Linked DNA regions of Homo sapiens: region 1 is linked to region 2. Evidence: fine-mapped expression QTL. Tissue or cell type: whole blood. Region 2 holds a variant in brackets; the other region holds the start of a gene. All regions are shown on one strand. Distances are between the middles of the regions.

The links. PIP is the estimated chance that this variant, and not a neighbour inherited with it, causes the effect.
Region 1: it holds the start of RFX2, and the variant in region 2 is fine-mapped to the expression of RFX2 in whole blood (INTERVAL, PIP above 0.99).

Annotation. Positions count from the first base shown.
Region 1 is chr19:6,109,307-6,111,806 of GRCh38, forward strand. RFX2 (regulatory factor X2) reads right to left here and starts at 1,194. Exons shown (of 18, transcript NM_000635.4): 1 at 1,087-1,194. RefSeq lists an enhancer at 1-208 and a silencer at 1,056-1,515.
Region 2 is chr19:6,333,898-6,336,652 of GRCh38, forward strand. It overlaps a transcript of ACER1 not described here. Among named protein-coding and RNA genes, the nearest start is that of ACER1, 1.7 kb to the left of the region's middle. The variant G/A (reference allele first, on the strand shown) is at 1,705.

The DNA.
Region 1 (2,500 bases), 220 kb before region 2:
TCAGGAATATGGGGTCACAGGGAGAAGGGGAGGGGGTGTCCGAGGCGACCTGAACGCGAGGATTTGGGGCAAAAAGGTGAGAAACAGTTCCCGGGGAAGCTCGCTCGGGGAGTTTGGGATGAAAAGGTGAGAAGGGCAAGAGGGGTTCTCCCCAGGGCAGACGCACCAGCTTTTAGTTAAGGAATGAGAAAAAGGTTCCAGGGGTGCCCCCAAATTCAGTATGTCTGGGAGTCCATTAAAAAGGGGGTCCCCGGGACAAGTCAGATCTAGGAATTTGGGGTAAAAATGAGAAGGGAGTCTTCGAGGTCCCCCCGATGCAAGAAGTTTGCGACTAAGAGTGACAGAAGGGCTCTGGGGTCACCCCAATTTCGGAGGTTTGGGGAGTAAAGTAAGAAGAGGGCCCCAGGTGGCCCCAATTCAGGGAGTTTGAGGGTATGAGTAAAAGAGGGGTCCCCGGGTGTCCCCATCTCAGAGATCTGGGGAGTAAAAGTGAGGAGAGGGTCCCCAAGCGCCCCCAATTCAGAGAATTCGAGGGTTTGAGTAAAAGAAGGGTCCCTGGGTGCCCCCAACTCAGAGATCTGGGGAGTAAACGTGAGAAGAGGGTCCCCTGGCGCCCCCAATTCAGAAAATTCGAGGGTATGAGTAAAAGAGGGGTCCTTGGGTGCCCCCAACTCAGAGATCTAGGGGGTTAAGGTGAGAAGAGGGTCCCCAAGCGCCCCCAATTCAGGGAGTTTGAGGAGTTTGAGAGACGTTCCCGGGGCGCCCCCAACTCAGCGAGTTTGAAGGTAAGCGTGAGAAAGGGGTCCCCGGACGCCCCAACCTCAGGAAGTTTTGTAAAAAGTGAGGCGACGGCACCGCACCTCCCCCGCGTTCAGTCAATAAGGAAAGTGGGGACGTCGCCAGGGTCCCCCCAAACTCCGCCGCGCGCGCGGACGGGGTGGCGGAGGCGGGTCCCGCGGGCGCACCACCCGGACGTTTGGGGTGAGCGGCGGGGACGTGCTGCCCGCCCCCCGGCCCCCGAACGGGGTCCCCGCCGCCCCCCACACTCCCCGGCCGGGCTGGGCCCGGGGCGGTCGCATCGGTCACCTGGAGTTCGGGCCGGGAGTTCGGGCAGCGGCTCCCGCGGCGGCGGCAGCGGCTGCTGCGTGTTGGTCCCCGTTGGTAAGTAACAGTCTCCACGGCTACAGTCTCTATGGCGGCGGCGGTGGCGGCGGCGGCCGCTCCTCCTCCGGCTCCCGCCGCCAGCCAGCCTCGCGCAGCCCGCCCGCCCGACGGGGCGGGGCGTTGTTACCGGCAACGGTTACCAGGCTCCGCGCCCCACCTTCCTAACGGCCCGCCCACGCTCGCCTCCAACGGGCCCCCAAGAGGGCGGGGCGCGAGACCCTACGGCGTTCCATTGGCTGTCTGCAGAGTCTGTCGGAAGGAGGAGGCGTTCCCCCTTGAAAAAGAGTGCGAGACTCGGCCAATGGCCGCGAAGAGGGGCGGGTCTTGGCGGGAGGCGCGCGCGGCTCAGAGGGTTGGCGAACCGGTCGCGCGCGCGGCGCCGTGGGTTGGTGGCGCGTTTTGGGAAAGTCCAGTTTTAGGGGACCCAAGGGACTCCGTTTACCCCACAGGAGGAGTGTGGGACATGTGGGAACAGTCTGATCAGGGGTCAGCAAACTCTCGCTCGCCGCCTGTTTTTCACGGACCCCCAGCTGAAAATTTAAATATATATATATTTTTTACATGGTTAAAAGAAACTATCGGCCGGGCGCGGTGGCTCACGCCTGTAATCCCAGCACTTTGGGAGGCTAAGGCGGGTGGATCACGGAGTCAGGAGATCGAGACCATCCTGACTAACACGGTGAAACCCCGTCTCTACTAAAAATACAAAAAATTAGCCGGGCGTGGTGGCAGGCGCCTGTAGTCCCAGCTACTTGGGAGGCTGAGGCAGGAGAATGGTGCGAACCTGGGAGGCGGAGCTTGCAGTGAGCCGAGATCGCACCACTGCACTCCAGCCTGGGCGACAGAGCGAGACTCCGTCTCAAAAAAAAAAAAAAGAAAGAAAGAAAAAAAAAGAAACTATCAAAAGGAGCTTTTGTGGGGTGTGAACCTGATAGGAGACTCTCTTTTATTGTATTGGGCCCAGTATTTTGAACTAGTTTAAAGATTGGCAAACTGCGGCCTGCGGGTCAAATTCTGCCTGCTTGGGTTTGTAAATAAAGCTTTATTGGAACATAGCCACGCCCATTTCCTTGAACAGCTTGGAAGGCTGCTTTGACACTACAGGGGCGGAGTGGAGTAGTTGCGCAAAGACGGCATGTCCCACGCGAAGCCTAAGATATTTACTATACGGTCCTTTACAGAAAATGTTTGCCAAACTCACCAGCCCTCCTCTCAAGCTGGTAGATTCAGCTACGAGTAGGACAGAAACAGACAGATCCTCATAGAACTTTTATTCTAGTGAGGGAACATTGACAGCAAACAGAATAAAGAGGTAAACATATAGTTATTCGAGACA
Region 2 (2,755 bases):
GAGTCAGGGCCTTGCTCTGTTGCTCAGGCTGGGGTACAGTGGCATCATCATAGCTCACCGCAGCCTCAAACTCCCAGGCTCAAGCAATACTCCTGCCTCAGCCTCTGAAGTAGCCAGGACCACAGGCACATGCTGCCACCATGCCTAGCTAATTGTTTTTTTTTTTGGAGACAGAGTCGCTCTGTTGCCCAGGCTGGAGTGCAGTGGCATGATCTCAGCTCACTGCAAGCTCTGCCTCCCGTGTTCACGCCATTCTCCCGCCTCAGCCTCCCGAGTAGCTGGGACTACAGGCGCCCACCGCCACGACCGGCTAATTTTTTGTATTTTTAATAGAGATGGAGTTTCACTGTGTTAGCCAGGATGGTCTCGATCTCCTGACCTCGTGATCCACCTGCCTTGGCCTCCCAAAGTGCTGGGATTATAGGTGTGCGTGAGCCACCGTGCCCGGCCTTTTTTTTTAAAATTGAGATGCAGTCTGGCTCTGTCACCCAGGCTGGAGTGTAGTGGCGCAATGTCAGCTCACTGCAACCTCCACCTCCTGGGTTCAAGCGATTCTCCTACCTCAGCCTCCCAAGTAGCTGGGATGACTGGCACCTGCCACCATGCCCAGCTAATTTTTTTTGTATTTTAGTAGAGATAGGATTTCACCATGTTGGTCAAGCTGGTCTCGAACTCCTGACCTCAGGTGATCTGCCCACCTTGGCCTCCCAAGGTGCCGGGATTATACGCATGAGCCACCTCACCTGGCCTGAGTTCCTCTACTTTAAGCTGTGTGACCTTGGGCAAGTGAATTTACCTCTCTGATCCTCTGTTTGCTCACCTGTCATATGGAGACGATGGTGACAGAGCCAACTGTAACAAAGGAAGACAGAGATAAAGCATGTACAAAGGCTTAGCCCACTGCCTATGCTAGAGTAGGCACTTGATGGATGGTAATGGGTTTTCTTTTTTTTTTTGAGATGGAGTCTTGCTCTGTCCCAAAGTGCTGGGATTACAGGGTTTTCTTACTGAAGCTGACCTTGAACTTTAAGTCAACTTTGTGGGAATAATAATAATTATTATTATTATAATAAAAGAGCCTGGCCTTAGCAAGCGGTTAGCAAGTGTGCATAACAATAATAATATAATTATTTATTATATAATAGCAATATTATATTAAAATATAAAATTATTATATTAAAAATACTATTGTTATATAATATTTTAAATATTTTAGTATATTATTTTAATGTGATTAATATAATTTAATATAATAATTAATATTATATATTATATAATTTTTCTTTTTTTAAGTGCTTGATTTTCAGTATTATCTCATTTAACGTTCTTTTTTTTTTTTTTTTTTGAGATGGAGCCTCACTCTGTCTCCCAGGCTGGAGTGCAGTGGCATGATCTTGGCTCACTGCAACCTCCACCTCCCTAGTTCAAGCAATTCTCCTGCCTCAGCCTCCTGAGTAACTGGGACTACAGGCACCTGCCACCATGCCCAGCTAATTTTTGTATTTTTAGTAGAGACGGGGTTTCACCATATTGACCAGGCTGGCCTCAAACTCCTGACCTTGTGATCTGCCCGTCTCGACTTCCCAAAGTGCTGGGATTACAGGCGTGAGCCACTGTGCCCGGCCTTCATTTAATGTTCTTAACAATCCTACCCCGGGTGCTGTGGCTCACGCCTGTAATCCTAGTGCTTTGGGAGACCAAGGC[G/A]GGAGGATCACAAGGTCAGGAGATTGAGACCATCCTGGCTAACACAGTGAAACCCCATTTCTACTAAAAATACAAAAAAGGTAGCTGGGCGTGATGGTGGGTGCCCATAGTCCCAGCTACTCAGGAGGCTGAGGCAGGAGAATGGCATGAACCCAGGAGACGGAGCTTGCAGCGAGCCAAAATTGCACCACTGCACTCCAGCCTGGGTGACAGAGAAAGACTCTGTCTAAAAAAAAAAGAAAAAATCCTAAGCGCCAGGAACTATTGTTATCCCTTTTCTTTTTCTTTTTTTTCTTTTTCTTTTCTTTTTTTTTTTGAAATAGAGTTTCACTCTTGTCACCCAGGCTGGAGTGCAATGGCATGATCTCAGCTCACTGCAACCTCTGCCTCCCAGGTTCCAGCGATTCCCCTGCCTCAGCCTCCCAAGTAGCTGGATTTACAGGCACCCGCCAGCATGCCCGGCTAATTTTTGTATTTTTAGTAGAGACGGGGTTTCACCATGTTGGCCAGGCTAGTCTCGAACTCGTGACTTCTGGTGATCCACCTGTCTCGGCTTCCCAAAGTGCTGGGATTACAGGCTTGAGCCACTGTGCCTGGCCTCTTTTTCTCTTTTGAGACAGGGTCTTGCTCTGTTGCCCAAGCTGGAGTGCAGTGGCGCAATCATAGTTCAATGCAGCCTTGCTTGATCTCCTGAGCTCATGCGATCCTATCTCCTGCTAGTAATCACTAGCAAGGAAACTAAAGCCCAGAGAAGTTAAGGAACTTACCATAGGTCACACAGTTAGGAAGTGATAGAGACAGGCAAGGAACACCACCTCTATGATGCCTCAGTTTCCTCACCTGTAAGGTGGTGAAAATGATAATGGTACTGCCCTCTCAAGCCTGTTGTGAAGAGTTAGTGAGCTGACACGATGTTTCCATAAAAAGATAAATTGTGGGCTGGGCACGGTGGCTCATGCCTGTAATCCCAGCACTTTAGGAAGCCAAGGCAGGCGGATCACGAGGTCAGGAGATCAAGACCATCCTGGTTAACATGGTGAAACCCCGTCTC